2 separate regions of the Homo sapiens genome follow, and region 1 is linked to region 2. The links come from fine-mapping of genetic effects on gene expression. A gene starts in region 2. The other region holds a variant in brackets. All regions are shown on one strand. Distances are between the middles of the regions.

Region 1 (5,216 bases), 260 kb before region 2:
CTTTTTCTGCATCTATTGAGATAATCATGTGGTTTTTGTCTTTGGCTCTGTTTATATGCTGGATTACATTTATTGATTTGCATATATTGAACCAGCCTTGCATCCCAGGGATGAAGCCCACTTGATCATGGTGGATAAGCTTTTTGATGTGCTGCTGGATTCGGTTTGCCAGTATTTTATTGAGGATTTTTGCATCAATGTTCATCAAGGATATTGGTCTAAAATTCTCTTTTTTGGTTGTGTCTCTGCCCGGCTTTGGTATCAGAATGATGCTGGCCTCATAAAATGAGTTAGGGAGGATTCCCTCTTTTTCTATTGATTGGAATAGTTTCAGAAGGAATGGTACCAGTTCCTCCTTGTACCTCTGGTAGATTTCGGCTGTGAATCCATCTGGTCCTGGACTCTTTTTGGTTGGTAAACTATTGATTATTGCCACAATTTCAGAGCCTGTTATTGGTCTATTCAGAGATTCAACTTCTTCCTGGTTTAGTCTTGGGAGAGTGTATGTGTCGAGGAATGTATCCATTTCTTCTAGATTTTCTAGTTTATTTGCGTAGAGGTGTTTGTAGTATTCTCTGATGGTAGTTTGTATTTCTGTGGGATCGGTGGTGATATCCCCTTTATCATTTTTTATTGTGTCTATTTGATTCTTCTCTCTTTTTTTCTTTATTAGTCTTGCTAGCGGTCTATCAATTTTGTTGATCCTTTCAAAAAACCAGCTCCTGGATTCATTGATTTTTTGAAGGGTTTTTTGTGTCTCTATTTCCTTCAGTTCTGCTCTGATTTTAGTTATTTCTTGCCTTCTGCTAGCTTTTGAATGTGTTTGCTCTTGCTTTTCTAGTTCTTTTAATTGTGATGTTAGGGTGTCAATTTTGGATCTTTCCTGCTTTCTCTTGTAGGCATTTAGTGCTATAAATTTCCCTCTACACACTGCTTTGAATGCGTCCCAGAGATTCTGGTATGTGGTGTCTTTGTTCTCGTTGGTTTCAAAGAACATCTTTATTTCTGCCTTCATTTCATTATGTACCCAGTAGTCATTCAGGAGCAGGTTGTTCAGTTTCCATGTAGTTGAGCAGCTCTGAGTGAGATTCTTAATCCTGAGTTCTAGTTTGATTGCACTGTGGTCTGAGAGATAGTTTGTTATAATTTCTGTTCTTTTACATTTGCTGAGGAGAGCTTTACTTCCAACTATGTGGTCAATTTTGGAATAGGTGTGGTGTGGTGCTGAAAAAAAATGTATATTCTGTTGATTTGGGGTGGAGAGTTCTGTAGATGTCTATTAGGTCTGCTTGGTGCAGAGCTGAGTTCAATTCCTGGGTATCCTTGTTGACTTTCTGTCTCGTTGATCTGTCTAATGTTGACAGTGGGGTGTTAAAGTCTCCCATTATTAATGTGTGGGAGTCTAAGTCTCTTTGTAGGTCACTCAGGACTTGCTTTATGAATCTGGGTGCTCCTGTATTGGGTGCATAAATATTTAGTATAGTTAGCTCCTCTTGTTGAATTGATCCCTTTACCATTATGTAATGGCCTTCTTTGTCTCTTTTGATCTTTGTTGGTTTAAAGTCTGTTTTATCAGAGACTAGGATTGCAACCCCTGCCTTTTTTTGTTTTCCATTTGCTTGGTAGATCTTCCTCCATCCTTTTATTTTGAGCCTATGTGTGTCTCTGCACGTGAGATGGGTTTCCTGAATACAGCACACTGATGGGTCTTGACTCTTTATCCAACTTGCCAGTCTGTGTCTTTTAATTGCAGAATTTAGTCCATTTATATTTAAAGTTAATATTGTTATGTGTGAATTTGATCCTGTCATTATGATGTTAGCTGGTGATTTTGCTCATTAGTTGATGCAGTTTCTTCCTAGTCTCGATGGTCTTTACATTTTGGCATGATTTTGCAGTGGCTGGTACCGGTTGTTCCTTTCCATGTTTAGCGCTTCCTTCAGGAGCTCTTTTAGGGCAGGCCTGGTGGTGACAAAATCTCTCAGCATTTGCTTGTCTATAAAGTATTTTATTTCTCCTTCACTTATGAAGCTTAGTTTGGCTGGATATGAAATTCTGGGTTGAAAATTCTTTTCTTTAAGAATGTTGAATATTGGCCCCCACTCTCTTCTGGCTTGTAGGGTTTATGCCGAGAGATCCGCTGTTAGTCTGATGGGCTTTCCTTTCAGGGTAACCCGACCTTTCTCTCTGAATATGTGACACATGATTTAAAATAATATATGATATATAATACAGTATATATTATGTATATTTAGTAATATTCATTATTATATATAAAATACTATGTGATTGCATGTACTGCTAGTGTAGATTCTGTATATATGATTACTGTAAAAGCAATTATTATCATTGTCTTTGTTATTAGAATCCATTTGATGCCACTGTTACTGAGGTCAATAGAGAGATAGTGAGAATAACATAGAAATTGTGAATCCTGTTGATACTAGGATTAGAAATAGATCTGATTGCATGTGTGTTTGTGTGTCTATGTGCTCACGCACATGTGCACGTCGGTAGGTAATGAATCTGGCTTTGAGCACAAAATCACAGAAAGAACTGATAGGAATACTGCAGACGATGTGGTCCCATTGCTCATTTTGTTGATGAGGAAAGTGATGTCAGTGCTTCATCAAGCAACCTAAGGTCCCACTATTGCTGGCAGGTCTCTTGTCTCCTCCCTTCTTGAATTTGGGTGGAATCCAGTGAAGATGGTTAGCAAAGAGATGAGGGAGTGGTCCTGGGAGGAGGCTCCTCTACTGGAAGATTCGGCTATTCTTCCTTAACTTGAGCCTAGTGCCACGCTTCTCTCCTGCCCTTCCCTGCTTCTCTATACTTTCACTTCCCACCTTGACATTTAAAACCTCTGTTTTCTGAGTAACACTGATGCTAATGTTTGTCTTTTTGGGGCCTCCTTCTGATGCTAGGCTCAGAGGA[C/T]ATTCAAAATAATAACAGATCAGTGCTTCCGAAACCCAATTTAATACAAGAAGGGGTGGGTGCCTGTTTTGTCTTGAAGTCCAGAGCCAGGTGAGTCACTGTGCTCCCCATGGTCAATTTCCTGAGAGATTATCATCTTGAGGAGGACATATCAAGTACCTTCCAAGGAGGCATCCAAGATTCAGGGCTGTTTTTCCAGCCCATGGAGTCCCAGGAATTGTTTCTTCTCTATTGATTGATTCTTCTCTATTGAAGACCCTTATTGAGGACGAAAATTTTTTCTCTGTGGATTTTCCACGTAATCTTGGCTTGAGAGAAAATATAGTAATTTTAGGCAGTTTGTGATTCTAGAGGTGTTAAGAAAGACATTTCCAAATACATTTAGGGATGTTGCTGGATAAATCTAACCCCTGCCTTCCCCCCTGACTCCACCGCAGGATCACGGGGAGGCAAGGCTGTGATTGCAGCTGGGTGTCTTTGCAGCATCTCAGCCTCGTCTCCCACACCCAGTTCTTCTCCAGCATCCGGGGCTTCCATGCTGTCGACTGGTGTGACCTGAGGACCAGTGTGACCACTCCCCCTCTCCTCCCTGAGCAAGCCCCTGCCATGCTCTGTCCATCCTCTGCCCCTGACTGGCATCGACCCCTGGTACCTCAGCCTCAGTGCCAGGACTTTGAGCCAGGAGCAGCAAATTGGGGAGCCAATGTGAGGATGGGGAGAATGAGGCCTGCCATGGTCTGGGTCTAGGCTGCTTTTGTCCAGCGACTCCCCAGGGTGACCACCCCTGAAGTGGACATCATTTCTGATCTAAGTGGAAGAGTAAGACATAAAGGACAACTGAAGTGAGGGTGCAGGAGGCTGCCCCACTCAGACCGTGGTGTTTGTATCAGAAGCTCTTCTCTGTAAGGGGAAGGTGGGAGCACCAGGATCTTGACTGTATTTTCCAGCTGAGTCTTCCTGATTTGGACACGTTTTAAAACTTTCGAATTTTTAGAGTATTGGTTTAGAGTGATGGAGCCAACTTCATGGGGTCAAACATATGTAATTTACATAAAAGTACTAAACAGTTCATTTAAATTACAGTTACACACAACTCGATGGAACACTGAGTTTTAAAAAGTCCTAGAAAATGATATACCCTATGAAACACTTTTAATACAATTAAAAGCAACTAAAATGAAACAACATATTTTTAGAAAAACATGTGTTAAGACTATATGCAAAATAAAAAAGAAAATGTTAACCCAGGTGTGGTGGTATGGCCTATAGTCCCAGCTACTTGGGAGGCTGAGACAGGAGAATTACTGGAGCCCGGGAGTTTGAGGCTAGCCTGGGCAACACAGCAAGGGCCTGCCTTAAAAGAAAAAAAGAAGGAGAAAGAAAAGAGAGGAAAAAAAGAAAATGTTAAACCTTTGGTTAAGTTAATTTTGGAGAGGTGGGGGACAGTGTGGAAGAGAAGTGTATGTGTAGGTATAAATTATTCCTAGTATTTTGGGTTTTGTGTTCATAATATATTCATTGATGTTTATTACATTAGATTATTAAAATAATATAAATTAGACTAATATAAATTAAATTGTTCAGGCCAATTACAAAAGTGAATTAGTGATCTAGTTAGCATTTATTCATATGCCAGGTAGTGTTCTAAGCACTTTACATATACCATCGACTCACTGAATCCTCAAAACAGTCCTATAAGGTGGGATTATTATTATTTCTATTTCCATGGGGAAACGGAGGCACAGAGAGATCAAGCAACTAGCCCAATACCACACAGCTGAGCGGGAATTCTAACCCAGGCTGTGTGTCTCCAGAGTTCTGCTCTCTTAACCACAAATGTTGTGAATGATGTATTTTGTGAACCCAGGGTTCCTAAAAAAAGAGGAACAAGTTACCTGAAGGAACTGGTTTCTATAGAAAGCAGGTAGAGTGTGCAGGAAAGGAGGATGTGTGGCCTTAGTCTGGGAGGAAAGTTGGTGGTTTTGTTTAGACTAATGTGTCGGTTGGTTACCATCTCTACCCTCCCAGGCAAAATACTTGCACTTTAGCAATGCCTTACTGGGTTAATTCTAATAGTGGGGATTTTGGGTGACATGGCAGACTGTTGGGAGACCATCCATTGACTGCGTGAGTCTTTGAGCTCTTTTCGTATCATACTGGTGATCTGGCTGCTGGCTAGATGGAGTTAGTGCCCCTTTTTGTTTTGCCTCAAGATTTATCACCTATTAAGCAAATATTGACTTCTTAAATTAAATTGTAATGCCTCTTGCAACAGAAGTCAA
Region 2 (5,216 bases):
GCTCCCTTCCTAACTCCCCCTCCATCACCAGATTACACAATTCCTTGAGCCTATGGTATTTTCCCCTGGAGCTTGTGTTCATTTCCTAACTCAATTAATTCCAGATTCCCTCTCTCACCTTCTATTTTCCCTCGTTTTCACTAGAAAACACTATTTGAGTGACTTTCCTGGTTAGTTGAATTCTTCTCAGCTCCTAAACTTTCTTTTCTGTGTCTGCAAAAGCTTGATGGAGATAACACAACTAGAGAATTCTCCCCACACACTCCAGCACGGATGAACTCGTATTTTTACACCCTCCTTAGTATCTGCAGCCAAAGCAAAGGGAAAACCACTCAGGCATTGTGGGGGAGGTACTCTGAGTGTCTGGAAGATGCCAGGCTGAGAACAGCAGTCATAAATGATATACCCACAAAGGAAAAGTCTCTGGTCTCCCTGGGTGAGATGGCCTTTCTCTGGAAAGGAGGCCACCTATAACCACTTCCTTTGCCCTTTGCTGTGACCTTGCTGTCCCCGGGCGCTGTCAGGGATTGTCTGGGAGGAGGTCGGGGGGGGTAGGTCAGTCACAGGTGGGGACACATTTGAACAGACCTAGACAGGGGAGCCTTATACAGAGGTTCTCTGCTTCCTTCCCACCTCCTTAGGGTATGAAGCTAGATTCCCTGATCTGAATGGATTCCATGGAGACAGTCACCTAGACAGACACCTGGTTTCAGGTGATCCCTTTCTGGACAAGGTCTTTTGTTTTCAGCGCCCCCCCACCCTCCGCCCCAACAATGGCATCTCCTCCTCAGCCCAGCCAGCAGCCCCAGGCTAGCATCTGGGAAGAGTCCAGGGAAGCCCAATGAGGGAGAGTGGGCTGTGTCTGGGATGGCCAGGGATCCCCTCCAAATGGGCACCTGCGGCAGGTCGTGAGTCCAGCCATCTCTAGGGCAGCCCACACCTTCAGCAAGGAGGGGCAGGAGACCTAGAATGGGGGAAATGGGAGGACTAAGATTCTAACGTTGGAGGTAGGGCAGGCTGGTGTTACCTGCACAAGGCCAGAAGCCTCTTCAGGCCGCCTCTCCAGGGACCGTGCCAGCTGTCCCCACTTCGATCAGCCACAGTATTGGACTTGGTCCAGCACGAACAGAAAGCGAAGTGTGAGCCCAAGACAGAGGGGGGAGCCGGACACCCTTATGGAACTAACAGCCTCTGGGGAGGCCTGTTCCAGATCCCGAGTCGGGCGCACAGGGGGATCCCCGCAAGGGGGCAGAGGGAAACCCGGGAGGCCCGCGAGAAGAGGCGAGGCCAGAGGCTGGGCGCGGGCAGCCAAGCGCACTCGCGGCGCCCCGACTCCAGGTAGCACGTAGAGAGGAGGCTGAAGAGCCCCTCGGTTTTCCGAAAGTTTCCAGCGAATCCTTCTTGGTGAAGATCGGCCTCTGGGAGGCAGCGTGTGTGCTTCCCGAGAGGGGGCCCCCTGCGCCGTCCCTCTTCCCCTGGCACAGAAGGGTTGAAGGACTGCACACAGGGATCCCTCCCCAGCCCAGTCTCCTCCCAGCGCGCCCCCTCCCCGCCATGCCGGCCAGCGCCGGGCTGTGTCCCAGGCACTGCCCCCCGCCAACCCTGGCCCGACCAGCCTCGCCGCTGCAGGCTGCCGGGAGCTGCGCTAGCTCATGCTCCCAGCTCGCTCGGTGCTCCCTGTTCGCTCCGGCCCGGCCCCGGCCCCCATCGCGCCGACCATGGAATAGGCGGGCGGCCCCGCGAGGCGCTCCTGCAGCCGGCGAGGCCAGAGCCAGTCCGGGGTGGCTTTGCCAACCGGCGGAGTTGGCCAGCGGCGGGCCCTCCTACCGTCGGTCCTTCCCCGCTCCTCCTCCTCTGCCCCCTCCGCCCCCGCCTCCCGGCCGCCCCCGCCGCCCCCGCCGCGCCGCCGCCCCAGGCCGAGCGCGGGCGCGGAGCGTGGGAGCCATGGCGCGCGAGGAGGAGCGGGACCCCGAGCGCCGGGAGGCGGCGGCGCGGGCGAGCGGCGAGGAGGAGGAGGAGGGAGGGGAGGAGGGACTGGGCGATAGCGACGAGGAGGGCGACGACGAGGAGACGGGCAGCGGCGAGGAGGAGGAAGAGGAGGCGGAGGCGGCGGCCGGGTGGGAGCGCAGCGAGGACGCGCGGCTGCTGCGCGCAGGGCTGCCTCCTGCCGCTGTCCCCGCCGCGGCCGCCCGCGACAGGAGCGGCCGCCGCCCGCCGAGGCCGCCGCCCGGCCGCCCGAGGATGCGGCCGTCCGGCGACGAGGACCGCGCGCGTCGCCGCCGCCGCCGCCGCCGCCGGAGGGACCTTCTGCTGAGCCAGCTCTGCTTCCTGGCCTCGGTGGCGCTGCTGCTCTGGTCGCTGTCGAGCCTGCGAGAGCAGAAGGGTGAGTGCACGCTGCCTGCCCCGAGTGGGCGCTGCGGCTCCGGCGGCTCGGGGCTCCCGGGGCTGGGCGCGGGGCTCCTTCGGGCGGCCCGGCCGGAGCCCCAGGATAAGCGGGCTGGGTTGGCGGGGGGAGTGGGATGCCAGGCACGAGGACTCCCCCTGCCCCACGCAGAGGCATGGAGGTGGGGACCCTGAGCGCCAGCAGCCAGCAGGCTTAGGCGTCTGGCCGCCCTGGGAACATTTACCTGTGCCCGCCTGTGCGCTGCTTACTCGCGAGCTGGAGGTACTGCTGGTGGCGGTGGTGGGGAGTCTTACTCTCCATCAGCCCCCAAGGCCAGGGATAAAGTTGTGGTGGTAGACCCGGCACCTGTGCAGGTGACCACCTGTATACTCCTTGGCTTGCTGAAGGATTCAAGGGGACTGCTTAACACACAGTTGTCCGTATGTTCTCCATCCAGAGAGCAGGCGGGATGGCCCGAGTAGAGAGCTCTTCAACCCCCTTTCAGAACAGGTGCCGGGAACTTCAGGGAGAGAAAAAGTGTTGGCCCTCCAGCTATGGGCTAGTAGGGGACTTGTTCTCCTAAAATGACCACTCACTGGGAAGACAGGGAATTCTTCCTCAGAGGTCCCTTTTGCAGAGCTGCTGCTGTGGAAGAAATGGTTTGCAGTGGACCACGCATCACACTGTCCGCTCCTCTACCGGTGCTCTGCGCAAAGTCTGCCCTTTAACCCACAACTTTTGTCTTGTCTTTGTCCTTGGCCTTTCTTGAGCTGAAATAGATCTTGTGTGCTCCCAACAGTTGTCTGCTGAAACAGCTTCGATCCTGGGATTCAGCTGTCTATAAAATGAAGGAAAAACATGGGAGAATAACTGTTGTAAAATGGTTTTATATCCCGGCCGTGGAAGTGGCACGATTAGTGGGAAAACAGCCATGTAAAGGGTTGTGAGAAAGAAACAAAACAAAACAAAACAAACAAACAAAAAAACAGTTACAAGTATGTGCTGTGGTGTTGAGGTCGACGTAGCTCTAATGCAAGATGTCATGAGGTGCAGAATAAAGACATTTTGATAGTCACCGTAAAATATTTTCAAAGGTGCCATGAATTTAAAAAGGGATCTCCCCCAGCTTGGCTGGTCTCCTGCTTGGTGGGGAAGTGAAACAGGCGTCAGTCTTCATTCAGTCTTAGCAGACCGCTTGACAGACTTCATCATTTATGGTAATAGCAGAGAGTCCGTCTTGGTCTTCAGTGAAGCTGTTCAAGACTCCACGGCTCTCTCCATTGCTCTCCTGGATCTCAGATCCCGTAGCCTTGGGTTCTGACATCAGGAAGGGGGCCGTGCCGGTGTGAGGGAAGCAGAATCTCTCCCAGGGCAGATTCACATCTGCCAGACTTCTGTCTACTGACAGTCTCACTAAGGGGGTTTTCCCGAATCCCATTTTTATTTTCCTTTTTTATTTTTCTCCAGTGAAAAACCAGTTTATAGTTCATGCCACCTTTGGAAAGGGCTATTCCTAGTGGATTACACGCTGGCCATTTTTTTCTGGTATGTTGGGGCTCTATGAGACATAGAGTTCCCACCACTTTCAAGAATATAAAAGACATTTTTTTCTGGGTGAAGGATGTGACTCATATAGTTAAGTCAATCAGTGACAGGGGGCTGCCTGGGCCCTGAAAAGCTGGGATTTGGGAGGAGAGGAGGCCAGACACTCTGCAAACTTGAAACCTGGGGACTGGAATGTCATTTTGGAATGGTTTCCCTGGTAGTGACATTTCTATTCAGGTGCCACTGACTCAGATTTAGTTCCATAGCACGGCCTTTTCCGCATCCCTCCCTCTGTCCTACCTTTCTCCTTCCTACCTTTCATATTCTTTTTTCCTCTCACTTCCTCTTCCTCCCTTCTCATCTCTGTTGGTCTTAGGACCCCTCCACACCCCAGTAACTGAAGATCTAACAGGCAAAAGCCAAATGTTAAGGAGGATGCCAGCCAGCCTCCCTGTGTTGCCCCCGAATGACATATGAGTTGAAATGGTCTCCAATCACTTTTTTTTCCGTTAGGTATTGATGATTTTGGTATGTGATGCACAGTAGTATTTTGCAGCAAGACACAGGTTTTTCTAGATAATTTTTAACATATTAATTAATGTGTGTGAATCTGCAAATGATAATTTTGCAAGGGGAATTGTCGTTTGGCACACGTAAGCATTTGAATGGTGACTTTTACCCTGGAAACTTGGAGCACACACTACCTAGTGGTCCTTTGGTACAGATACTGAAGTTTGGAATGGAGCATTGTTTCGAAGACCTTGTGGTGTAGAGAGGCTGAGTGATTAGCTTAAAGTCACACAGCATTCGAAGAGTAGAGGAAAAAACCAACCTGAGGTAACCTGGTTTTTTGTTCCCTACTCTGTCCTCATATTCAAACCACCATTTGGGTGTAGCTTTGTAATATTTATATAATCTCATAGGGGGTACCTTCATAATGATCAAAGGTAATATTTTCATTTAGTCACCTTGAAAGCCATGCAGTGATTGTTAAATGTAACTTCTCAGAAGCTCGTTTTCTAACACATATTGACCTTTCCCTCCCTCCTTCCTTCTGTTGGCCCTTCCTCCCTCTCTCCTTCCTTCATTCTTTCTTCCTTCCTGCTCCCTTCCTTTCTCTCTTCTTTCCTCTTAAAATGACAGTTCTTTTACCAAAGCAAAATAGAGATGTGTGATAATTATATTATATGATGTTTCATAACATTTCTAATCATATGGAATCCAAGATCCCTTTCTAGACATCTAACGAAACTCAGATTTGGCTATGTACTGAAAAGTTTTGGTTATA

Alleles and levels. Alleles are on the strand shown, and positions count from the first base shown. SD is a standard deviation of normalised expression in the study named.
For the expression in subcutaneous fat of the gene that starts at base 2,041 in region 2, T is the high allele of the variant in region 1 and C is the other (small effect, 0.16 SD a copy in GTEx).

Evidence for each region. PIP is the estimated chance that this variant, and not a neighbour inherited with it, causes the effect.
Region 1: its variant is the best candidate, but not a certain one, in a credible set for the expression of SLC24A3 in subcutaneous fat (GTEx, PIP 0.83).

What each region holds. Positions count from the first base shown.
Region 1 is chr20:18,952,202-18,957,417 of GRCh38, forward strand. No RefSeq gene overlaps it. Among named protein-coding and RNA genes, the nearest start is that of SCP2D1-AS1, 120 kb to the left of the region's middle. The variant C/T (reference allele first, on the strand shown) is at 2,935.
Region 2 is chr20:19,210,602-19,215,817 of GRCh38, forward strand. It overlaps SLC24A3 (solute carrier family 24 member 3), which reads left to right and starts at 2,041. Exons shown (of 17, transcript NM_020689.4): 1 at 2,041-2,383. The coding sequence starts at 2,242. LOC101929547 (a long non-coding RNA gene) reads right to left here and starts at 1,867. Exons shown (of 3, transcript XR_007067549.1): 1 at 1,028-1,867. RefSeq lists a silencer at 2,392-2,441.